Linked DNA regions of Homo sapiens: all the other regions are linked to region 2. The links come from fine-mapping of genetic effects on gene expression. A gene starts in region 2. Each other region holds a variant in brackets. All regions are shown on one strand. Distances are between the middles of the regions.

Region 1 (5,103 bases), 42 kb before region 2:
AGTATCACCTGAACCCAGGAGGCTGAGGCTACAGTGATCTATGATCACACCACTGCACTCCAGCCTGGGTGACAGAGTAAGACTTTGTCTCAAAAAAGAGTAATAACCGGACTATGATTCTTCTACCAATTATATGAATTTAACAGAATAAGTAGGATTTTATTTAATACTATCAAACATTATTGTAAGTAGTAACAAATCAATTTAAGAAAATGTAATTTATAAGATATACTGGAACATTCATAACAAAACATCAAACCTTGGCCATTTCAACCACACACAATCTGGTGCTGATAAATGCAATAAGCTAACTGTAGTTAATTGTCCAGCCTCCTCACATGCCCCTCGGCCCAATCACATGTCTGTTAAAACCTAAAGCATCTCAGCAGAAAGGAAAAAAAAAGCAAGGGGTAAAAAAAACAGTACGGATAGGCGCAGTGGCTCACACCTGTAATCCCAGCACTTTGGGAGGCCAAGGTGGGTTGATCGCCTGAGGTCAGGAGTTCGAGACCAGCCTGGCCAACATAGTAAAACCCCATCTCTACTAAAAATACAAAAAATTAGCTGGGTGTGGTGGCGCACGCCTGTAATCCCGGCTACTCGGGAGGCTGAGACAGGAAAATCACTTGAACCCAGGAGGCGGAGGTTGCAGTGAGCTGAGATCATGCCATTGCACTCCAGCCTAGGCAACAAGAGTGAAACTCTATCTTAAAAAAAAAACAAAAACCACAACTGAGGAACAACAAAACAATGTTTTATTTTCTCAATGACTGAATTCATGTCCAATAACAATCTTAATGACCTAGAGGACTTGGTTTATTAGAATCCAGTTGCAGGGCTGTACTTAATCTATCAGATTATCAGATGATTTCTATATGAATAATAAATTTTGCCAATAAAGCTAAAATTTTTTTTCCATATTTATCTGAATAAAATATCAAACTTAAAGGCCAGGCACAGTGGCTCACGCCTGGAATTCCAGCACTTTGGGAGGCCAAGGCAGCTGGATCACTTGAGGTCAGGAGTTCCAGACCAGACTGGCCAACATGGTGAAACCCTGTCTCTACTAAAAATATAAAACCTAGCCAGGCATTGTGGTGGGCGCCTGTAATCGCAGCTATTTGGGAGGCTGAGCCAGAAGAATTGCTTGAACCCAGGAGGCGGAGGTTGCTGTGAGCCGAGATAGGCCACTGAACCCCCAGCCTGGGCAAAAGAGTGAGAGTCTGTCTTAAAATAAATAAATAAAATAAAATAAAATAAATATATATACATATAAACTTAAAATTCCTGAGTTCTTTTTTCCTAAGGGGGGGAAATCACTCCATAGAACCTGAAAAAATAATATTTTGCAAGTCATTTTTCTATACAAGAAGTCTTTCCACATGTTCATATTAAAACCGTAGTGGGAAAAAAAACTTAAATTTTTAGCAAAAGCACTCAAATCCCAAAGGTGTAATGAAGAGAAATATCTCCTAACTGCTTGGGGAAAATTCATTAGTGGATTTGCTAATGACTCTTAAAAAAAAATCTCAAAAATTTCAAATCAAATTTTGTTTTTTTGCTGTGTTTTTTTAAGAGGAAAGTTCTGGAAGACCAAAGAAAATATGTCATGAAATCAAGCCATTAAGAAGTTGTGACTCCAAAAAAGTAAAAGCGTGAGCTACTGTACACACATGTATGTTTCTGTCCATGGCTCCTGGCTTACAACCCTCCGTAGCCCTGGTTACGGTCTTCTGTTATAATGTTGGGGTGCTTTAGGGCTCAGGAGCAATCCTCAGGAAACAGAATCTCTCTCTCTGACCTTCTCCTGTCCTCCTTTTACCTGATCCAAGGCAAGACTCTAATCTGATTGTGGGTCCAGAGATCCTCATTCTCATTCTCATTCTAGAGAGGGTCCTGCCCTTTACTGTGGAGGGAGGAATGCTGCACAGAGAGGTCAAGGAGAATCTGGACAGGCCTTGGTGGGCTTCCCCACTCAGTCGGTTAGTATGAGAACATACCCATTTTGTCCAATCACATTTCTACACAGTTGTCATTCGTGCTTATGTAATGAAGCCTCCATAAAATCTCAAAAAACAGGATTCAGAGAGCTTCCAGAGAGCATTTTGAATACATGGAGGTTGACAGGAAGGTGCAAAACTCATTCGTGTGCCAGGAGGGAGGTACATCCCAACTCCATGGGGACAGAAGCTCCTGTACTCGGGACCCTTCCAGACCTCGCCCTATGTATCCCTTCATTTGGCTATTTCTTTGTATCCTTTCTTTTTTTTTTATTTTTTGAGACAAAGACTCCCTCTGTTGACCAG[T/TA]ACAGTGGCGCAATCTCAGCTCACTGCAATCTCTGCCTCCCAGGTTCAAGCACTTCTCCTGCCTCAGCCTCCCGAGTGGCTGAGATTATAGGCATGCACCACCACACCTGGCTAATTTTTGTATTTTTAGTAGAGACGAGGTTTCACCATGTTGGTCAGGCTGGTCTCAAACTCCTGACCTCAGGTATCTACCCACCTCGGCCTCCCAAAGTGCTGGGATTACAGGCGTGAGCCACCGCACCCAGCTTCTTTGTATCCTTTAAAATATCCTATGTAATAAACCCATAAACTAAGTTAAGCTTTTCCCTGAGTTCTGTGAGCCACTTAAGCAAATTAATCAGACCCAAAGAGGAGAATGTGGAAACCCCAACTTGAAGCCAGTTGGTCAGAAGTTCTGGAGGCTCAGACTTGTAACTGGTGGGGAGGAGGGAACAGTCAGTCTTGTGGGACTGGGCCCTCAAACTGTGAGATCTGATACTATTTCCGGGTGGAGAGTGTTTGAATTGAATTGGAGGACACCTAGCTGATGTCTACTGCTTGATATGTAGGGGGAAATCCCCACACGTTTGGTCTGGTCACACAAGTCTTCTGTGTTGATGATGATGGTTGTGATGTGAGAATAGAGGGAAAACACAGTTTGAGAGATTTTTTCCCCTAAAACAAAGTACCATAAGAAAAAAATAAATTTAGAAATTAAGGCCAAGCACGGTGGCTCACGCCTGTAATCCAGCAGTTTGGGAGGCCGAGGCAGACGGATCACCTGAGAGCCAGCCTGACCAACATGAAGAAACCCCATCTCTACTAAAAATACAAAATTAGCTGGTCGTGATGGCGCATGCCTGTAATCCCAGCTGCTCAGGAGAAAGAGGCAGGAGAATTGCTTGAATCCGGGAGGCGGAGGTTGCAGTGAGCCAAGATCACACCATTGCACTCCAGCCTGGGCAACAAGAGAAAACTCCATCTCAAAAAAAAAAAAAAGAAAAGAAAAAAAGAAATTAAAAGATTCCCAAAAGCTAATTAGTGTCTTTTTCTTTTCTCATACCACTCTACATTATTGTTCAACATTGTCCAACAATGATAGACTGGATTAAGAAAATGTGGCACATATACACCATGGAATACTATGCAGCCATAAAAAAGGATGAGTTCATGTCCTTCGTAGGGACATGGATGAAGCTGGAAACCATCATTCTCAGCAAACTATCGCAAGGACAAAAGCCAAACACCGCATGTTCTCACTCAAAGGTGGGAATTGAACAATGAGAACACTTGGACACAGGAAGGGGAACATCACACACCGGTGCCTGTCGTGGGGTGGGGGGAGGGGGAAGGGGGAAGGGATAGCATTAGGAGATATACCTAATGTAAATGACGAGTTAATGGGTGCAGCACACCAACATGGCACATGTATACATATGTAACAAACCTGCACGTTGTGCACATGTATCCTAGAACTTAAATTTAAAATATAAATATATATATATATATATATATATATATATATATATATATATATATATATAAATAAAAAGAGACAGGGTCTCAGGCCAGGCACGGTGGCTCACGCCTGTAATTCCAACACTTTGGGAGGCCAAGGCGGGCAGATCACAAGGTCAGGAGATTGAGACCATCCTGGCTAACACAGTGAAACCCCGTCTCTACTAAAAATACAAAAAATTAGCCGGGCGTGGTGGTGGGGGTGCCTGTAGTCCCAGCTACTTGGGAGGCTGAGGCAAGAGAATGGCATGAACCCAGGAGACAGAGCTTGCAGTGAGCCAAGATCATGCCATTGCACTCCAGCATGGGAGACACAGCGAGACTCCATCTCAAAAAAGAAAAGGAGGATCTCGCTAAGTTGCTCAGGCTGGAATGTAGCGGGTATTCACAGTTGCATTTATCACACTACAGCCTCTAACTCTTGGCCTCAAGTGATCCTCCCGCGTAGCTGGGACTATAGGCTCCTGCCACCACCTGTTTTTAAATCACCCAAAGTCCACAGTTTATGTTAGGGTCCACTCTTTGTGCTGTATATTCTATGTGTTTCAACAAATGCATAATGTCTTATACTGACTGTTGAAGTATCATACAGAGTAATTACCCTGCTCTCCACCTATTCATCCCTCCCTCCCCCAGCATCTAGCAATCACTGATCATTTTATAGTCTGCATGGTTTTGTCTTTTCTAGAATGTCATATATTTGGAATCATATAGTATGTAGCCTTTCAGACTGGCTTATTTTACTTAGTAGTATGCTTTTAAGGTTCCTCTATGTCTTTTCATGGCTTAATAGCTTTTTATTTTTTTCTCATTTTATGGATGTGCCAGTTTATCCATTTACCAACTAAAGGATATCTTGGTTGCTTCCAAGTTTTATCAATTATGAATTAAGCTGCCATAAACATTCTTATGGCTGGGCGTAGTGGCTCACACCCGTAATCCCAGCACTTTGGGAGGCTGAAGCAGGCGGATCACCTGAGGTCAGGAGTTCGAGACCAGCCTGGACAACATGGTGAAACCCCATCTCTACTAAAAATACAAAAATTAGCTGGGAGTGGCAGCGGGCACCTGTAATCCCAGCTACTCAGGAGACTGAGGCAGAATTGCTTAAACCTGGGAGGCAGAGGTTGCAGTGAGCCGAGATGGCGCCATTGCACTCCAGCCTGGGTGACAAGAGTGAAACTCCGTCTCCAAAAAAAAAAAAAAAAGAAAAAAGAAAAAGAAAAGAAACTGCCAACTGCCTTCCAAAGTGGCTGTTCCATTTTTGCATTCCCACTAGCAATTAATGAGAGTTCCTGTT
Region 2 (5,103 bases):
TGTTCATCATTGACAACTGACAGCATCTTCCTGAGACTCATTTTCCTCCTCCTTTATTTGAAAACTAGACTTGATCTCTAAGATTCATTTGGTGATAACACTTGCTATAACGTACTCTAGCACTCTCCTCTATGCTGTTTTAGAAGTGTCCTAAATGAATGTCTATTTCCCTATGCTATAACCATTTGAAGATGGATATCGTCTGATCTTTGTATTTCCAATGCCACGTATAATACTTGTGTGTCCTTCAAATATTTCGTTTAAAAAAAAAAAAAGAGGCCGGGCCTGGTGGCTCAAGCCTTTAATCCCAGCACTTTGGGAGGCCGAGGTGTGCTGATCACCTGAGGTCAGGAGTTCGAGACCAGCCTGAATAACATGGAGAAACCCCATCTCTACTAAAAATACAAAAAATTAGCCGGACGTGGTGGCACATGCCTGTAATCCCAGCTACTTGGGAGGCTGAGGCAGGAGAATTGCTTGAACCCGGGAGGCGGAGGTTGTGGTGAGCTGAGATGACGCCATTGCACTCCAGCCTGGGCAACAAGAGCAAAACACTGCCTCAAAAAAAAAAAAAAAGAAAGAAAAAGAAAAGAAAAGAAAAAAGAAAAGTCTATGCATTCTTCTGGCACAGGTGGTCTGCATTTTGCAAATAAAAAACAAACACATGGGCCAGGAGCGGTGGTTCATGCCTGTAATCCCAGCACTTAGGGAGGCCCAGGTGGGCGGATCACGAGGTCAAGAGTTCTAGACCAGCCTGGCCAACATGGTGAAACCCCGTCTCTACTAGGAATACAAAAATTAGCTGGGCGTGGTGGCACATGCCTGTAATCCCAGCTACTCAGGAGGCTAAGGCAGGTGAACTGCTTGAACCCCGGGAGGCGGAGGTTGCAGTGAGCTGAGATCGCGCCACTGCACTCCAGCCTGGGCAACAGAGCAAGACTCTGTCTTGGAAAAAAAAAATGGTCTAAAAAACCTTACGATCTGCAAATGTTATGAATTGATCTAGAAAGTAATGTTTCTCTTTAAACTGTATGCTTCCTTGGGACTCATGCTTATTTTTACCTACGAACAACAGATTAATAACATAAGTGAAACAGTTGTGTCAGGGTGGTGCAAATATAATTTTAATATCTCAAAATACATATTTATTCTTTTTACTAACATTTATCCTTAAAATGAAGACCCTTACCCTATCCCTCCATCCTAACCACAATCCTACCTCAAAATGTCCTTCAATTTGTACTGACTTACCACTTCTCAGCACTTCCTAACAAGATCCCTTGCCTTTCATTAGTCACTTGTAATCCATTTCAATCGGAAAGAATCATAAGACAGCTGTTCAAGTGATAACACTCTCAACACCTTTAGTATCCATACCAATCCATTACAATTTCTGTCCACTAAATATAAAGAAAAAAAATACTACACATGGTATCATGGTGAAATTTGGGAACCAGTACAACCATGCAAGCCTACAATTTCACACACTGGGAAAACATTATTTCACACTTTATTACTAATTAAAGTATCTTACACGTCAATTTTTGAAAGATAAAAGGATTTTAAAATACACTAAAAGTTCACGCAAACTTACTTCCACCAAAGTTCAGATCCCTTAATGCATCTCCATCCTTAAAATCCAATCTCTCTGGAAAATCTAATGAAATAGGAACCCTCTACTTTCTAGCCTCTAAATTCATCAAACTCGTCACTCTTGATAATTTCTTTGTTTAAAAGTGCAAGGAAAGCATTCATAGTGGCAGCATCACGAGTTGGCTTACCAGGTTTCCGCCTCCCCCCATCTCCCAAGCACCTCCAATAAGCTACAATTGAAATAACCAAGAACGTGCTTAGGATGTTCGCAAAAACACAACTCTTAAGACTCCAACTCCAGTCTCCGCCTCCCAACGAGATTACTGCATAAGTACCTCCTACAGCAGAAATTCTAGTTCCCTCCTTCGAGGACCAGGAAGAATTCTGGAGCTTTGGGCCCTTCCTTTCTGGCTCTGGTAGGAACACACAACACTAGATTTGTTCCCTACTAAGGCAAGAACCCTGACCACATCTCCCTCTCCAAACAAGATCCAGCCACCCTACTCCTTACCGCTTTCCCAACACCCTCCCCGAACACAAAGCTAGGGAGCAAACCCCTCTCAGGCGCTCAGTCACTACATGGAGCCCGTCCAGTAGCCCTTTCCCACTCAGAGACAGGCCCATCTCCTTTATTCTTTCCCCAAACTCCGAGAGCCACACCCCCTTCTACACTGAAAACTTAGGGACGCGCCACCATCGCCAATACCCCGCCCCCAAACACCTGATAGACCCAGCTCCCCTGCTCTTCCCTCAAACGAGCGCTCCAGGCGCCGGCCTAAGCCAACTCCCCTGGGTCTTTACCGAGTCTCTGGTGGGGGCCGAAGCCCGGGTCATCCGGAGGTCGCGGCGCCAGCACGAAAGGAACCACGCTGGTCAGGAATAGGAGAGACTGCCTCATGTTCCCGGCCCCGCTACCGACTCCACCTCTCTGGGCAGCCTTCGCCTGACGGGGTTTCGGAAAACTGCTCACATCGGGGGAGGACGGGATCCGCCCGGCCTAGCCCCTCAATCCTCTTTTCCCTCCCGCGCCGCCTACTGGGAAGATTCTACCGCCAGGCTCGACGCCCCCAGAAGTGCAGGTGGCGTTACCAAAGGCCGGCTCAGCCAGCTTCCGGCCGCCGCTGTCCCCCGCACCACCCACAGCCGGAAGCCGGCTGCCGCGCGGCATCCCGGGAGGCTCCGCTTGCCCCGCCCCACGCCGGTGCGCCGCGGGCCTCTGGTCCGCTGCCGTGTTCGGCCCCGCCCGTCACGTCTAGCTGGGGCTCGCCCGGCGCCTTCCTGGACGCAGACGTATGAGTCCCAACTCCACCCAGTCCGGCCTGGCCTCTGTCCCCGGGTGACCGCGGAATGGGGGGGCGGGAGCTAGCGAGCAGGCCCTCAAGCGCGTCTGGCCGCCTCCTTTGTCTTGATGCCCACGTCTGGTTAGGACCCCTGCTGTCCATTTTATTAAAGGAGCTGTAGAAAGCGGCCTGGGGCCCAGCGACCTGCCCAGGGCGGACGAGGAGGCGCGACTGGCCCGATGCCGCAGGCTCTCTGCCCAGTGTGCTCAGGTGGGAGGGCGGGGACATGAATCGAGCCACAGAGTGCCCTGGGCACGGACCCCCCGCCCCCCCCGGCCCCGGGCCCCGAGCCCCGAGCCCCGAGCCCGGCCACCGAAGCCCGTGCCACTCGCCAGCTCCTGCGAGACGAGCCTTTCGAGCGCAGCTCAGGCATTTGGTTCAGGGTCCTACTGCCGGAGTCGTCTGAGGCCTCCATCCGTCTGTCGTCACGAAAAAGGTTTTGGGGGGACTAATAAGCACTTCCTGAATGCACATTTGCTCCACGCCCCTGCTGTAGGGAGAGGGTCTGCAGACACTTCAACAAATAGAATCCTAGGACCTTACCTGTGAGTACAAGAGCTGGAATCTTCCCACCAACTTCTTAAAATTCAATCCTATACTTGGTCCATTTAGCTTAGACTGGAAATTTCCCAAGGCAGTTTGTTTTGCAATCTTTTGCATGATTTTAGCTCTGTATAGTTTAGTGAATGTTTATGGTACTGAATAAAACAGTCTAAAAACGTTGGGTACATGTTGCTGTTTTATTTAGTTCAACCAAAGTTTATAAAAGTAGGACATAATACGTTTTCCACTTAAGAGTGAGACAGCCTTTATTATGAAACGGTAAATTGTTAGGAATACTAGTCCTATTCAAGTTTCAAGGCTTATTCCTAATAAAATACTCAAACTGTGGTTAAAATTTATGTTAATGGTGGTTTGCCGCAGTAAAATATCAGCGTCTTTTTCAACAATACATTGTTGGCTAAAATTAACCGGACCTGGTCTGTACATCTGAAGTATAAAATATCTTTATTAAACATACCCATTAGTGGCATACCTAGTCAAAAAGTAAGCAGAATTTCACATGCAAATTGTATACAATCTGTAAAAATTGTATTCCATAAGAATGTGACAGTTGAGTACGGTTTTTGGGGGGCTTTTTTGGTGTACCATAATAATGTCATCTGGTTTCTTTTCTGAACATCCAGTCACCATAATGTCCGGCTTGTAACTTTAGTAGATCGTAGATTGTATTATTTTGGTATCCCCAACAGCTCTTGTACAGTGCCTTGCTCATAGAAGGTACTTAGCTGTTTAGTAAATGCCGTTTAAAAAAAAAATCCCGATCCATTTTCTTTTCTTTTTTTTGGGGGGGGGTGGTGGGGGAAAGAGTTTCGCTCTTATTGCCCAGGCTGGAGTGCAATGGCGTGATCTTGGCCCACTACAACCGACTGAACACCTCCTAGGTTTAAGCGATTCTCCTGTCTCAGCCTCCCAAGTAACTGGGATTACAGGCGCCCGCCACCACGCCCAGCTAATTTTTGTATTTTTAGTAGAGATGGCATTTCACCACGTTGGCCAGGCTGGTCTCAAACTCCTGACCTTAGGTGATCCACCCGCCTCGGCCTCCCAAAGTGCCAGGATTATAAGCGTGAGCCACCGCGCCTGGCCTGAATAACCAGAAGTCCTAGATTTCCAGGGACATTCCAAATTTCAAGTAATCTTTTCAATTCACAAATCAGGACCCAAATTATTCCAATTTGCAGTTCATCTTTCATTTATCAATTGTGCATACTTTTAAGATAAAAGAGCACCACGTGGGGGAGATAAAGAGCCAAAGGAATATGGTAAGAGGGGCACTGGATAGATTAATTAGTTTATCTTTTTTTTTTTTTTTTTTTTTTTTTGAGACGGAGTCTTGCTCTGTTGCCAGGCTGGAGTGCAGTGGCATGATCTTGGCTCACTGCAGCTTCTGCCTCCCAGGTTCAAGGGATTCTCCTGCCTCAGCCTCCCAAGTAGGTGGGACTACAGTTGTGCGCCACCATGCCCAGCTAATTTTTGTATTTTCAGTAGAGACAGGGTTTCACCATGTTGGCCAGACTGGTCTGGATCTCCTGACCTCGTGATCTGCCCGCCTTGGCCTCCAAAGTGCTGGGATTACAGGCATGAGCCACCGCGCCCGGCTCTTTTA
Region 3 (5,103 bases), 160 kb before region 2:
GCGGGAGGAGGTTTTTAGGAAGAAGTTTTTCTCCAGTGTACAGAACTAAAGTCTTTTTTCACTGGATCAGAGAAGCGAGCCCTGGATGCTGCCCTGTCTCCTGCTGCAGCAGCCCTGGAGTGGGGAGTCCAGCATCTCTGGGCTTCATTGCTTCCAGAGCATGAGAATTCTAGAGCCGAGGTGCTCGTGACTTCCTTAGAGTAAGTTAAAATTAAAAGCAGCCCAGCCCCAGCTAGAGTCAGTGCCATGTGTGCACATGCCGGCAGCAGAGCCGGGAGCAGTGGGTCTGGGAGGGTCTTCAGAGGTTTCCAAGGCGAACACACCAAAGGCCAGAAGGAACCACTTTCCTGCCTCTCCGTCTGGTGGTCCAGGGGCTGCATTTGTGTGCTAGAGTCAGACTTTTGAGTTTTCCTTTAAATTGGAAAAAGGAAACAATAATGATAAAAAGAAAGATCATAAGCTGGATCCCTTCATGTTTCCCCACGCCAGTTTCCTCTCTGTGTAGCTGAAGGCCTCATTCTTCCTGGCTTTTCCTGGCAGAGGGAAACCCAGCGCCTTATGTGTTACCCATCCTGAGGCCCAGTATGATAAGCCCGACATTTAGAGAGGGCTTAATGCCTATCAAGGGAGGAGAGACGGAGGAAGGAGACTTGGACTCACAGCCTCCCTCCAGGTCTTACCAGCTCTGCCACCCTTGACGAGAGCTCTTCCCCTCCGTGGGCCTCAGCCTCCTTGTCTGTAAAACGTAGACACTAAGAAAGCTCTTCACCCACCCACTCCGGAGACTGAGGAGCCGTTACTAAGTTAGTAGCTCCCATCTCTCCTCAGATCCACCCTGCCCAGCAGCCCGATGAAGTGGGTAGGGCCTCATCCCTTTGGCCACAGGTCAGTCGATGTGCAAAGCAGGCCCTGCTTCCCCGGGCAGAGCTGAGGGCCCCGGCCTCCTGCTGTTGGGTCTTTGAGTGGAGAGCAGGAAACTGCTGGCTTTCCCCCAGGGAGTTCTAGCTGAGAAAATACTCACTCACAGGCTGATAGAAAAATTGTCATCCTAACTTTAGGCTCCCAGCTTCCTTATTAGTTTGGAAAGGACTCCCTGCTTCCTCCCTGTGAATGGTTTTCTGAAAACTGGCAAGGAAATAGCAGCAGGTTTTTCCTTAGGAAATAGCAATAAAAAACTGAAGCCCTTCTCAGAAAAGCCTCCAGTGAGGAGGCCTGAGTGGGAAGCCTGGCGGCTGACCCTCTGCACGTCTCTCCCTGTCCTCCGCAGATCCCCTGACCCCCACGCCGCCCCCACCCGTTGCCAAGACGCCCAGCGTAATGGAAGCCTTGAGCCAGCCGAGCAAGCCTGCCCCGCCTGGGATCTCACAGATCAGGCCCCCACCTCTGCCCCCACAGCCGCCCAGCCGCCTCCCGCAGAAGAAGCCTGCGCCGGGGTAAGCCACCCCCAGCCAGCTCGGCCATCCGTGCTCCTGCCCTCTGACCTCACCTGCCCAGGGCTCTGCAGGAATGTTTGCAATCCCCAGGGCTCCTACTCCAGCGTGGGCGCCACATAACTAATTCATCGGGGCTGAAGGGTCTTAAAAATAACTGGAGGATTTTTAGACTGTAAAAATGTCTTACAAATGTACATTTTAAGTCCACAGAATGAATTCAGACAAAGTGTCCTCAACACACAAGGCTTCTGGGTTCTATTTGCTGCTCACCCCCCAGGTGGTCTCTGTTTCTGTTTTCTATTTTCCCAAGGTTGTTTTGAACACATAGACCCTCTGTGGTGTGAGGCGTGGATTTCCCACAAACAAGGACATTGTCCTACCTCACACAATACCACCTGCAAAATCAGGAAATTAACACGGATGTAGAAACACCACCCAATCCTTAGACCCAGGTCAAGCTTAGCTGTTTGTCCAAATAATGCCCCTTGTTGCAGATGGGTCTAGTTTGTGGCTTTTTTTTTTTTTTTTTTTTTTTGAGACTGAGTCTAGCTCTGTCACCCAGGCTGGAGTGCAGTGGCGTGATCTCGGCTCACTGCAAGCTCTGCCTCCAGGGTTCTTGCCATTCTCCTGCCTGAGCCTCCCGAGTAGCTGGGACTACAGGTGCCTCCCACCACGCCTGGCTAATTTTTTGTATTTCTAGTAGAGACGAGGTTTCGCCGTGTTAGCCAGGATGGTCTCGATCTCCTGACCTCGTGATCCACCTGCCTCGGCCTCCCAAAGTGCTGGGATTACAGGCGTGAGCCACTGCACCAGGCCCCAGTTCGTGGCTCTTAATCTGGATCTTTATGGTGGGAAATGGTTCCTTTTAGTGGAAATGATATTTAGAGGCCAAGTTCTGGGGGCTAGGTGGAGAGTCACTGCTCCCACACAGGCCCTCTGAGCTGTTAGAACTTGGAAATATACGCACATGTACATGGATACATACATACACCACTTATCTCTCTATTCCGTATATTTCTGTATTGAAATCCATGAGTTCACATTGACATCTCTGATTTCAGTTGTTCTAGTAACAAACCACACCAGACTGACAGACATGAGGCACAGCCAGTTTATTCTGCTGACAGATTGTCAGGAATTTGGATGGTACTGTGGGGTCTTCGTCTTTTCTCCACAGTGTCTGGAGCCTTCGCTGAAAGGACTCGAAGCCTGGGGGTGGTTGGACACAGGAGGTGACTCGTTGGCTGGGGGTTACGGTCAGAGTCTCTTCACGCCCCCCGTGGTAGCTGACGCTGCCTGTCAGCCAGAGCCTCAGCTGGGCTGTGACCAGAACACCTACATGTCCCTGGCATGGGCTTCCTCATATCACGGTGGCTGGGTCCACGGACAGGTCCCCAGAGAGAGGCCTGGCCCTGGAAGCTGGCACGGAATGACTTCCGCCATACGTCACTGCTCAGTTACAAGCTCAGACACAGTCGGGGCAGAGAGGACTGTGGAGTGGCACAAGGAAGTCATCAGTTCCACCTCTCAATAAAGAATTTGGGGCCAGGCGCCATGGCTCACGCCTGTAATCCCAGTACTTTGGGAGACCAAGGTGGGCGGATCACCTGAGGTCCAGAGTTTGAGACCAGCCTGGCCAACATGGCAAAACCCCAC[C/T]TCTACTAAAAATACAAAAAAATTAGCTGGGCATGGTGGCATGCACCTGTAATCCCAGCTACTCAGGAGGCTGAGGCAGGAGAATCCCTTGAACCCAGGAGGCGGAGGTTGCAGGGAGCTGAGATCACGTCATTGTACTCCAGCCTGGGCAACAAGAATGAAACTCCATCTCAAAAATAAAAAAATAAAGAATTTGGAGACTAGGCACCATGGCCCACATCTGTAATCCCTGCACTACTGTGTTTTTGTTTTTTTGTTTTGTTTTGTTTTGTTTTTCTTGTGTTTTTTTTCTTTTTTTTTTTTTTTTTTTTTTTTTTTTTTTGAGATGGAGTCTTGCTCTGTCGCCCAGGCTGGAGTGCGGTGGCGCGATCTTGGCTCACTGCAAGTTCCGCTTCCCAGGTTCACACCATTCTCCTGCCTCAGCCTCCCAAGTAGCTGGGACTACAGGTGCCCACCACCACGCCTGGCCAATTTTTTATATTTTTAGTAGAGATGGGGTTTCACCGGGTTAGCCAGGATGGTCTCAATCTCCTGACCTCGTGATCTGCCCTCCTCGGCCTCCCAAAGTGCTGGGATTACAGGCTTGAGCCACTGTGCCCAGCCCATCCCTGAAGTTTTTTAGGAGTAGAGAAATAAAGTTAAACTTTTACTTAGTCCCTCTGTTTTTCAAGATATTCCCAATAGCCGCACCTGGTATCCCCCATCCAGACACCGTCCGTTTTGCCCTCTCCAAGAATAGAAGCTTCCTGTCCTTAGTAGGTTGGGCAGGGCAGCGGCTAAGGCTACTCAGAGCTGGGGCGAGATTCCAGGGGTTCAGGAGCTCCTCAGACAGATTTTTGGCTAATTCTTCTGCATACTACCTTGCCTTTCTCCCCTTCCAGAGGGTCCTGAGCCTTCTGAGGACACTTCAGGACTACAGATAGGAGCATTTCAGGGCCTTCCTCACTGCTGGAGTGGGATTCCATTCCTGAGATCAACTAGGTTGACTGTGATTTATCTTTCACTCTGTTGCCCAGGCTGGAGTACAGTGGTGTGATCACGGTTCACCGCAGCCTCGACCTCCTGGGCCCAGGTGATCCTCCCACCTCAGCCTCCGCATAGCTGGGACCACAGGCACGCACCACCATGCCCGGTTAATTTATTTTTATATTTTGTAGAGGTGGGGGTCTCCTTATGTTGCCCAGGCTGGTCTCGAACTCCTGGGCTCAAGCAGTCCTCCCACCTTGGCCTTTCAGAGTACTGGGATTACAGGCATGAGGCACTGCGCCTCACCTCTTTTAGGTTTAATTTTTAAAAATCCTTTTCCTTGGAAAGAAATGGAAGTAAATGTACTTAAATCTGCCATTTTAACCAGAAGACTCCCAAAACTTTTTAAATGCTACTTTGCAAGATAACTTTCTAAAATATAACATGCAGGGCTGGGCACAGTGGCTCACACCTACAATCCCAGCACTTTGGGAGGCCAAGGTGGGTGGATCACTTGAAGCCAAGAGTTCAAGACCTGCATGGCCAACATGGCAAAACCCTATCTCTACTAAAATTACAAAAATTAGCCGGGCATGATGGCACACACCTGTAATCCCAGCTACTCGGGAGGCAGAGGCAGGAGAATCACTTGAACCCAGGAGGTGGAGGTTGCAGTGAGCCAAGATCACACCACTGCACTCCAGCCTGGGCAACAGAGCCAGACTCCGTCTCAAAAAAATAAAAATAAAATATGCATATCTGTGCCCTCCTAGTCTTAAACAGCTACTGAATTATGCTGTAATAAATGGGCTTTCCAGTGCTAATTATTTCTGCCTCTATACCAAAGTGGCCACAGGCCATGCTTCTCTTGGCTTCTGGGCTCTCTTCTGCCTTCCCTTATGACTCCCTGGGATTTACGCTTTCCATGCTGCTGTTTTTCGAGAGAAACAAATCACGTGTTGAAGTCCTGGCTAAGGAGCCGTCAGCTCCCAGCAGTTATTGGGACTCTGAGAACCGTGGTTGTCAGCTGTGAGGTGCAGGTTCCTTG
Region 4 (5,103 bases), 69 kb before region 2:
CACCGCTATTTAGTGAAAATTGTAGGCATCAAAACGAAGGTCTCTTTGTCTAAAGCCGACAAATGATTTTGCTGTGTTGCGGTCCAGCTGTTACATGTAAGAAGCCAGCGGTGTCAGCGCAGCGTTCAGCTTCCATGGCCTGGCATTTCCTACTAGTGCAGCCCTTACCAGCCCCCAGCCCAGCTCCTGCAGCCGGCACTCTCCAAGCAGCCCAGCCCTCCTGGGCCTTTCCTGCCTCTCTGCCTCTGTTCAAGGTGTCCTCTAGAACATCCTCCCTGGCGCCTCAGAAGATTCCGGTTACCACTGAAGGCTCCTTCTTCCCACTGCACCTTGTCCTCTGCTGGGTAGAGCAGCACACCAGTAACCTGCAAGGCTCATCAACATATACCCTAAACCCCGGGGCTGGCCCAAGTGGGGTCAATATTTAATGGCATTTTGAAACTGTCTAGATGAGTGGAGCAGAACTTACACAAGGGCCAGCACTTGGGTTTACCAACTGCCACCTCTATTTCTTCTCTTCAATAGGTTGCAAACTAAATCGCCTGAACTCTGTTGTTGGTGAATATGCCAATGCGTGTTTACAAGTGGCCCAAGACTGTGGGACTGACGTACTTGACCTGTGGACCCTGATGCAGGACAGCCAGGTACGGTGGCTTGCTCGGTCCTCTCGGGGTAAATAGGATCACACAGAAGTAAACCAGGTGTGTGTGCAGCAGCTTTCCCTAGAAAGGCCCTGCTTAGCTAAGACAGTCATCCCTTTAGCCAATGAAAACAAACAGGCTTGGGGGAGGGGAGGAATGGAGGTTCCAGGATGGCTCACAAGCCCAGCAGCTTAATTCAGCCAGGCTCCTTGGCTAGGAGTTAGTGCGCAGTGACATCAATGAGCAACACATGGCTCATATTTATGAACGTCCAGGCCAAGTTCTTCTTTCATACAGAGAATGGCAGAAAGCTAAAACTTGTTAATAGGTAAAACAATGAATTTAAATACAGTATTGGCTAATAAAACTGTTTGAGATATGTAGTTCTAATTAAGTTACTTTGTTTTAAAGCCTGAAAGCACAAATATAAAAGGTAAAAAGCAGGTCCCATGGAATGGTGCACTGACTCAGGAGACAGCTGGTTTCTGACGCAGTCACACATACACTTAGGGAGGACCTGGCAGTCCACTCCTGGGTTATCTGCCCTAGAGAAATGAAAACTATGTTCACACAGAACCTGGGTGTAACTGTTGACAGCAGCATTATTCCTACCTGCTGGAAACACGCCAGTGTCCTTCTGTGATGAATAGGGAAACTGGTGTGTCCGTGGAATGGGATACTACTCGGCAATAAAGAGGAGGAACTGACAAGCGCAGCAACGTGGGTGACTCTCGAGGCGCTTCACTGAGGGAAGGAAGCTGGTCTCTGAAGGCTACTTACTACATGAGTCCATCTGTTTTGGTGTCTCAAAAAGGCAAGACTTGGGCTGGGTGTGGTGGCTCACACCTGTAATCCCATCACTTTGGGAGGCCAAGGCAGGTGGATCACCTGAGTTCAGGAGTTCAAGACCAGCCTGGCCAACATGGCGAAACCCTGTCTCTACTAAAAATACAAAAATTAGCTGGGCATGGTGGAGCGCGCCTGTAATCCCAGCTACCCAGGAGGCTGAGGTGTGAGAATCGCTTGAACCCGGGAGGCAGAGGTCACACCACTGCACTCCGGTCTGGAGGATACAGGGAGACTGTCTCACCCTCCCCAGCCCACCCCCCAAAAAAAGGCAAGACTGCAGTAACAGAACAGGTCCATGGTGGCCAGAGGTTAGGGCAAGGAAAGGTATGGCTAAATTCAGGTTCCACACAGATACTGGTGAAGAGGGGCAGACAGGCACTGGTCTTTTTTAATTTTTCTGTGACCTTGTGCTACTCTTTTGTAAAGAGCTTGTTCAGTAGGGCACATTAAAGGCTACTTCATTGCTATGCTGGGATCCAGAGAGAAAGCTTGGACGGGACTGATGATATTTGAAGTACTCAAGGGA[A/AG]GGAAGGATCCAGTGTGCGGGAAGCTCTTTGGACAAACGGGAAGACTCACAGCCTCACCGGTTTCCTCTATTCCTAGCTGTTAGGTTTAGGCTACTTGGACAAAGCAACATAGAAAACAGCCAAGAAACTAACCCAAGTGCCAACTTTTTCCTCTCCCCTAAATATTAATCCATACCAATCGTTCCAATGACCTACACATTTATTATCCATCTGTAATAGGGAAAATGGTCACCAGTGGGAAAGTCATACTACCACGTGGATGCCGAGTCACCAGTCACCTTTGGAGGCCCTGAGAGCCTAAGCAGATCTGGACCCTAGGCCTCTAGTCTTCCTCTGAAACCCTGGAGTACTGGAACCTTCCAGAATTCCAGATTAGGAGGGGCCTTGGCAGCTTGAGTGCCAAAAGGGTCGACATCTAGAGTTCTGTTGTCTAGGAAAGGAAACTGCAAACTATTGGGCTAGTTTTGCTCACATGTCTTTTTCAATTTAATACAAAACTGAGAGGGTCGTCCTTAGAGATCATCTCATCTCAAACTGCCTAGATGAGAAAACCAAGGCCGAAGAAGAAGTGCTACTATTATATGATAGCATCTAAATTTCTGGTCTATTAAAAGTCACATAAGGCCGGGCGCGGTGGCTCATGCCTATCATCCCAACATTTCGGGAGGCTGAGGCAGGTGGATCACCTGAGGTCAGGAGTTCGAGACCAGCCTGGCCAACATGTTGAAACCCCATCTCTACTTAAAAATACAAAAATTAGCCAGGCGTGGTGGCAGTCACCTGTAATCCCAGCTACTTGGGAGGCTGAGGCAGGAGAATCACCTGAACCCGGGAGGCAGAGGTTGAATTAGGCCGAGACTGTGCCATCGTTCTCTAGCCTGGGCAACAAGAGTGAGACTCTAGCTCAAAAAAAAAAAAAAAAGTCACATAAGCTAGTTGGCCACCCAGATTCTAACAGAGCTCTTGGCTAGTGAGATTCTTCCCCAAGAAAGAAATGGCTGTATGGGTAAAATTCTTATAGTTCAGGGCCTGGTATGGCTGCTCATGCCTGTGATCCCAATACTTTGTGAGGCCAAGGTGGGAGTATTGCTTGAGCCTAGGAGTTCAAAACCAGCCTGGGCAACATAATGAGAGACCCATCTCTACAAAAAGCACAAAAATTAGCCAGGTAGCCAGGTATGGTGGCACGTGCCTGTAGTCCCAGCTGCTCAGGGGGCTGAGGTTAGAAAGATCGCTTGAGCCCAGGAGGTTGAGGCTGCAGTGAGCCATGATCATGTCACTGCACTCCAGCCTGGGCAGCAAAGCAAGACCCTGTCTCCAAAAATATGTGTATCTTTTTAAATATGTACTCTTGAGTTCAGGGCAATGGGAGGGAGACTGGACTCCTGTGTCCCAGCAATTACTGTTCTAGGTTAGATGGTAGAAGTTCTTTCTGCCTAAAAACCTGCCTAGAGTCAAAAACAATATTGACTCATGGGGCCCCTGAACACTCCTAATACCAAATTTTTCATTTTTGCTGATTACGTTAATAGGCCATATTTACCTGTTAAGGTTCTTTCAAATAACCTGAGAATCATGTCATATGATTCAGAAGACCTGGAATGAGGTCCCAGCTCACTTAATGGTGAGTGACTTTCATGAAACTCAATTCTATAATATGGAGACAGCACTATAGCACTAGTCAGGGTTCTCTGTGTGTTCAAACACCTACGTAAATAGCACATCAGTGCTACTGTAGTCCAAGACACCTCTGGTCAGATGCCTACAATGAAAGGGGCTGGTGATATTTCTGTCGCAGGGCCACAAATGAGAGAATGGTACACACTGGCATTTAGAAAAGTTATACCCTCCCTCCCCGGCCTTTTTGTGTGTGTGTGTGTGTGTGTGTGTGTGTGTGTGTGTGTGTGTGTGCGCGCGCGCGCGCGCGCTGTGGGGGGAGACAGTCTATCACCCAGGCTGGAACTCAGTGGTGCAATGATACCTCACTGTAGCCTCCAACTCCTGGGCTTAAGTGATCCTCCCATCTTCGCCTCCCAAGTAGGTGGGAATACAGGTGTTTGCCACCACACCCAGCTAATTTTTGTATTTTTAAAATTTTTTGTAGAGACAGGGTCTCAAACTCCTGTCTTCCAGTAATCCTCGGCCCCAAAGTGTTGGAATGACAGGGGTGAGCTACCACACGTGGCCAGTTACCCACCTTTAACCGATTTCTCTCCCTTCTAGGACTTCTCATCTTATTTATCAGATGGACTACATTTGTCTCCAAAGGGGAATGAATTTTTGTTCTCGCATCTCTGGCCTTTGATAGAGAAAAAGGTCTCTTCTCTACCTTTGCTGCTTCCTTACTGGCGGGATGTAGCAGAAGCAAAACCTGAATTAAGTCTGCTGGGAGATGGAGACCATTAGCCAATCACAGGAGACCCAAATCTGCTTGTTATCTACAGAACTCAAAGTTGTCAATACGTAGAGGTACGCTTTTTTCCTCAGGCTTAAACCTTTGCCACTGATATTAATAATAAAAGTATTAGATGATTTTTCAGGGAAGTTTTATACTTAGGTCCATTGTGTTTCGACAGTATTTATTAATGCAGATATCAGTGCTACAGCTATAAAATATACCCTGAGCAGCTTGTTAATTCTATAAATGACAAAGACTATGTTTTTAAAAAGTCACAATTTTATAAAAATGGTTTTTCTTACATTCTTTTGAGAACTGTTTCACTCATACATACACCCACACACCCCACTCAACCTTGTATCAAATTCCAAAAGTGTAACTAAAGTATAAGAATATCATGACTAGTTAAAAGATAGCAAATACCATAAGGTACAAGTTCAAGTATTAGTATAACAAGTATCTGAGTAACAAATGTCCTTGGAAATGGGGGGTAGGAGGAGATATGATTAGTCACAGGTTTGGTTAACTGCCCTCAAAATTTACAAGTTAAAATGTTTTGGCTGGTGAGCACATTTCAGTTCTTAGGGGAAAAAAAGCTTTTAATGGCAATTTATAGAAATCAGAATCCAGGCTAATGATTTTTATCCTTCACACAGTAAATGCAGCCCATCCAGAATCCTGGAGCAAT
Region 5 (5,103 bases), 250 kb before region 2:
CTTAGAAAAAAATTGTTTGCCAAATCTACAAGGTACTGTGTGGAATGGCTCTAGTGGGGATGTAGATAGGGGGTGGAAGGGCTGTAGGGGGTGTAGATATGCGGTGGAGGGGCTGTAGGGGGGGTGTAGATACAGGTGGGAGGGCTGTAGGGGGATGTACATAGGTGGGAGGGCTGCAGTTGTGGGGGTGTAGATACAGGGTGGAGAGGCTGTAGTCTTGGGAGTATAGATATTGGTGGAGAGGCTGGAGTAGTGGAGTATAGATATTGGTGGAGGGGTTGTAGTATTGAGGTATAGATATTGGTGGAGGGGGTGTAATAGTGGGGTATAGATATTGGTGGAGGGGCTGGACTAGTGGGGTATAGGTATTGGTGGAGGGGGTTGTAATAGTGGGGTATAGATATTGGTGGAGGGGCTGGAGTAGTGAGGTATAGATATTGGTGGAGGGGCTGGACGAGTGGGGTGTAGATATTGGTGGAGGAGGTTGTAATAGTGGGGTATAGATATTGGTGGACAGGCTGGAGTAGTGGGGTGTAGATGTTAGTGGAGAGGCTGGAGTAGTGAGGTATAGATATTGGCGGAGGGGGTTGTAATAGTGGGGTATAGATATTGGTGGACAAGCTGGAGTAGTGGGGTAAAGATATTGGTGGAGGGGCTAGTGTAGTGAGGTATAGATATTGGTGGAGGGGCCGTAATAGTGGGGTATAGATACTGGTGAGGGGCTGTAATAGTGGGGTACAGATATTGGTGGAGGGGGTTGTAATAGTGGGGTATAGATATTGGTGGAGGGGCTGGAGTAGTGAGGTATAGATATTGGAGGGTCTGGAGTAGTGAGGTATAGATATTGGTTGACAGGCTGCAGTAGTGGGGTATACATATTGGTGGAGGGGCTGTAATAGTGGGGTATAGATGTTGGTGTAGAGGCTGTAGTAGTGGGGTATAGATGTTGGTGGAGGGGCTGTAGTAGTGGGGTATAGATATTGGAGGGGCTGGAGCAGTGAGGTATAGATATTGGTGGAGGGGCTGTAATAGTGGGGTATAGATATTGGTGGAGAGGCTGTAGTAGTGGGGTATAGATATTGGTGTAGAGGCTGTAGTAGTGGGGTATAGATATTGGTGGAGAGGCTGTAGTAGTGGGGTATAGATATTGGTGGAGGGGCTGTAATAGTGGGGTACAGATATTGGTGGAGGGGCTGTAGTAGTGAGGTATAGATATTGGAGGGTCTGGAGTAGTGAGGTATAGATATTGGTGGACAGGCTGGAGTAGTGGGGTATACATATTGGTGGAGGGGCTGTAATAGTGGGGTATAGATATTGGTGGAGAGGCTGTAGTAGTGGGGTATAGATATTGGTGGAGAGGCTGTAGTAGTGGGGTATAGATATTGGTGGAGGGGCTGTAGTAGTGAGGTATAGATATTGGAGGGGCTGGAGTAGTGACGTATAGATATTGGTGGAGGGGCTGTAATAGTGGGGTATAGATATTGGTGTAGAGGCTGTAGTAGTGGGGTATAGATATTGGTTGACAGGCTGGAGTAGTGGGGTATAGATATTGGTGGAGGGGCTGTAATAGTGGGGTACAGATATTGGTGGAGGGGCTGTAGTAGTGGGGTATAGATATTGGTGTAGAGGCTGTAGTAGTGGGGTGGTAGATATGGGATGGAGGGGCTGTGGGAGAGTATCGATATGAGGTAGAGAGGCTGTAGGGGGTGGGGTTATGGGGGTAGGGGCTGTGAGGGGTGTATATATTGGTGGAGGGGCTGGCGTAGTGGGGGTGTAGACATGGGGTGGAGGGGCTCTAGGGGTGTAGAGAGGGAGTGGAAGCGCTGCAGGAGGGTGTATATACCACGTGGAGAGTTGTAGTACTGGGGGTGGAGATATGGCCTGGTGGGGCTGTAGGGGATAGAGATACCGGGTGGGAGGGCTGTAGTAGTGGGGGTTGTGAGTGAAGGAGGTCGGGGAGCCACATCCGCAGCAGGGATGCAGAAGAGCAGCCGTGTCGGCTTGGGTGCCTGCGAGGGGCCTCAGGGACGTTTCCCAGACTTTCTTAAAGGCAGAAGAGCGGCTGCTGCAGGTGGAGGCATAGGGACCACAGGTGTTCACTGTTCTAAGAAGGGTTGATAACGGAAGAGGAAAGCAGGTGGGAAGGGTTCCTAGGGTGAGAGGGGCTTGAGCCTGTTTCTGGGCCCCAGGGAAGGAGCTGGAAGCTCAAGGTTGATGAGAAGGAAAATGGGGGGCTGTGAGCTGTGGAGATCCTGTGCCCCTTTGTCCTCGGGTTGATGAGCCCAGCCAGGAGTCAAGCCTCTGCTCCTGGCTCGCTGAGGGAATTGTCAGCGAATTGATAGAAATTCAGCATGTGCTTGTTTGCATTCCT[CCTT/C]CTTTGGGAACTTTCAGCCGTTTGGTAATCATTGCTTAAAATCTGAAGCCTGGCACCCCATATCAGTGCCCATATACTCCAGGTTCCAGCTTAGAAGGCATGTGGGCAGGGTTTGTACCATTGGTGCCCCAGGGGCCCTGGCCGGACATCCACAGAGCATCACTGGAATCGCCTGGGGCTTCTTAGAATTCCAGCCTCTCGGAGGCCTGCAAAGCCAGAATCTTAGTGTGTAGGAGCCCCAGGCAATAGCAGGCAGTCAAGCTTGAGCAGCACTGCCCTGGAGCAGAGGTCCTCCAAGTGCAGCCCCTGGGCCAGCTGCACCAGCAGCACCGGAATTGTTAGAAATGCGCAGCCCCAGCCTCCACACCTCACCTGCAGGGTTGTGGCTCTCCAGCTGGAGTGCATCAGCATCGCCTGCGTGGCTTGTTAGACCACACCTGTTGGACTTCCCCTAGAGTTTCTGATTCCGCAGGTCTGGGATAGGGCCCAGGGTTTTGCATTTCCTGTTCCTAGTCACGCTGGCCTTGCTGGTCAGGAGCCACACTGAGAACCACTGCCCCAAGGACAGCCTGGGTCCAGTGCTTCCGACTCTCACCCTTGGCGAGATGGAGACTTCAGGTGCCCCAGGTCCTGTGGAGGTCAGAGCTACTTCCTAAACCTGGATTCTTGGAGGTAATACATTTGAAAAAGTACTTTCATTTCTGGTTGATGGCTTCAGCAAATGTTTTACCATCACCCGGTTTTAGAAGTAGTTTTGGGTGCCTGAGTCCTGGGTTCTCCAGTGCTGCCCTCCGGCTCCCAGAACCGGCCTTCAGCTGGTGTCAGTGTGGTTGTTGGTGGCTGACTGACATGTCCAAGCTTATCCTTTATTCTAGTGGAGAAGGGGGCAGAGGGCCCAGTTTTCTCTCCACTTAGAGCCTGAAAGATCAGAGCTGTTGACTGCCAGAGAAGCAGCATTAAGAGCAGAAACCAGGTCAGCGATTTTCCTCCTTGTTCTGGTGTGAAAGTTGCCAATGTGTTTTTGGCAGCTGGCTGGTTTTGATCTTTCAGTTTGTGTTAAACACTTAGGATCAGCATGGGCTCCCCCTTCTCCTTTTTAATTAAACAGCGACTGTGCTGCCAGGGACGGGCTGGGCGCATCTGTTCAGGAGGGCCCTGTGTGAGAGTGCATAGACGGGAGTGTGTGCATACGTGTGCTTGTCTGTGTGCATGCATATGTGTACGTGTGCATGCATGTGTGTATGATAGACCTCAAGGCAATTCTGTGGCCCAGGGGATCTGTTCACTGACACCAAAAACAAAAGTGGCCTAGATGATTGTATTAGTCTGTTCTTGCACTGCTATAAAGACATATCTGAGACTGGGTAACATATATATAACACATATATAACACACACATATATAACATATGTTTAATTGGCTTACGGTTCCACAGGCTGTAGAGGAAGCATGGCAGCATCTGCTCTGCTCGGCTTCTGGGGAGGCCTCAGGAAACTTACAATCATGGCAGAAGGTGAAGGGGGAGCCAGCACTTCGCATGGCCGTGGGCAGGGGCAAGAATGAGGCGGGAGGTGCCACACACTTTTAAACTCACTTGCTACACAGTACCAAGGGGCATGATGCCAAACCAGTCGTGAGAACTTCACCCCCGTGATTGAGTCATCTCCCACCAGGCCCCAGCTCCAACACTGGGGACTGCAATTGGACATGAGGTTTGAGCGGGGACACAGACCCAAACCACATCAGTGATTTTCCTGTTTAGAGTTTCCTTGTATGTACCTGACGGGCTGCTCTGTGTAAAAGGGAACAGGAGGGCTTTTCGATGGAGACAGCATCTAGGATGGCAGCATGTGCCCAGCCTCAGCTTAGCTTAGCCTGGCCTGGCAGGTGTAAACCATCTTGCCCTGTGCCAGCAGGAGTTTCAGTCCAGCCGTCTTTAATAGTGAGCTGAGAGGAAGAGCTCTGGCTTCACTGTTCTAGCCAACTCCGCTGCTAATAGTTGTGTGATTTGGAGGCAACGTGGATGACTCAAGCCTCTGTTGCCATACCTGCAAAATGGGGGTCACGGCACATACTTCTCAGAGTAATTGCAAGGGTTGAATGGGATTAAAGGGCCCTGTGTCATCTGGTGGTTTATTCAGGCCATTTTAGTCAGTACCTTGTGCTTCTCAAAAATACTTTCTGCCTGGATACCCGTTCTTTCAGATAAGCGGCCTTTAGAAAGAACAGAGAGCTGTCCTTTGAACCTGCCAGTCATACTCCTGCCCCAGGACCTTTGTGTTAGAGTCCCGTTGGCCCAGAGCGCACTTCCCCCAGGTCCTCATGTGGCTCTCTGCCCCGCCTCCTTTGCGCTCTGCTCCAAGACCACCTTATAAAAAGGCCTTTCTGACACTATTTGAAAGAGTCTCCATCCCACAAATGATCATGGCATCTTTATTTGTGGTATCCGTAGTATCCCCCAAACTGGAAACAACTCAAATGTCCATCAGCAGGTGTCTGGCTAGACGGCAGTGTAGCCATATGATGGAACAGTGCTGGCCAAGAAAAAGAAGTGAACTACTGGTACACGCAACTACATGAATGAATCGCACAGTCATGCGCAGTCCCAAAATCATGATGCAAGAAGCCAGATGAAAAGGCGTACATGCGGGATGATTCCAGATACCGTATATAAAATTCCGGAAAGTGCAGTGTTCTCTGGCAAAGAAGCAGATCAGGGGTTGCCAGAG

Alleles and levels. Positions count from the first base shown, and alleles are read on the strand shown. Sizes are in standard deviations (SD) of each study's normalised expression. Not every link is listed here.
For the expression in spinal cord of the gene that starts at base 2,716 in region 2, allele A in region 4 goes with a lower level than allele AG (moderate effect, 0.63 SD a copy in GTEx).

The links. PIP is the estimated chance that this variant, and not a neighbour inherited with it, causes the effect.
Region 1: its variant is fine-mapped to the expression of ADAM17 in whole blood (INTERVAL, PIP above 0.99).
Region 3: its variant is fine-mapped to the expression of ADAM17 in whole blood (TOPMed, PIP 0.98).
Region 4: its variant is fine-mapped to the expression of ADAM17 in spinal cord (GTEx, PIP above 0.99).
Region 5: its variant is fine-mapped to the expression of ADAM17 in whole blood (INTERVAL, PIP above 0.99).

The regions. Positions count from the first base shown.
Region 1 is chr2:9,510,741-9,515,843 of GRCh38, forward strand. All of the region lies in intron 10 of ADAM17 (ADAM metallopeptidase domain 17), which reads right to left. It also overlaps a transcript of IAH1 not described here. Among named protein-coding and RNA genes, the nearest start is that of IAH1, 39 kb to the left of the region's middle. The variant T/TA (reference allele first, on the strand shown) is at 2,307.
Region 2 is chr2:9,553,115-9,558,217 of GRCh38, forward strand. It overlaps ADAM17 (ADAM metallopeptidase domain 17), which reads right to left and starts at 2,716. Exons shown (of 19, transcript NM_003183.6): 1 at 2,395-2,716. The coding sequence starts at 2,491. RefSeq lists silencers at 1,726-2,020, 2,635-2,924, 3,155-3,374, 3,346-3,640.
Region 3 is chr2:9,392,215-9,397,317 of GRCh38, forward strand. It overlaps ASAP2 (ArfGAP with SH3 domain, ankyrin repeat and PH domain 2), which reads left to right. Exons shown (of 28, transcript NM_003887.3): 24 at 1,268-1,433. Among named protein-coding and RNA genes, the nearest start is that of ITGB1BP1, 29 kb to the right of the region's middle. RefSeq lists enhancers at 636-1,273, 1,274-1,911. The variant C/T (reference allele first, on the strand shown) is at 3,090.
Region 4 is chr2:9,483,907-9,489,009 of GRCh38, forward strand. IAH1 (isoamyl acetate hydrolyzing esterase 1 (putative)) reads left to right here. Exons shown (of 6, transcript NM_001039613.3): 5 at 526-644; 6 at 4,241-5,103. The coding sequence ends at 4,423. It overlaps ADAM17 (ADAM metallopeptidase domain 17), which reads right to left. Exons shown (of 19, transcript NM_003183.6): 19 at 4,580-5,103. Among named protein-coding and RNA genes, the nearest start is that of IAH1, 12 kb to the left of the region's middle. The variant A/AG (reference allele first, on the strand shown) is at 2,017.
Region 5 is chr2:9,304,373-9,309,475 of GRCh38, forward strand. The region is part of intron 3 of ASAP2 (ArfGAP with SH3 domain, ankyrin repeat and PH domain 2); the gene reads left to right. Among named protein-coding and RNA genes, the nearest start is that of ASAP2, 100 kb to the left of the region's middle. The variant CCTT/C (reference allele first, on the strand shown) is at 2,372.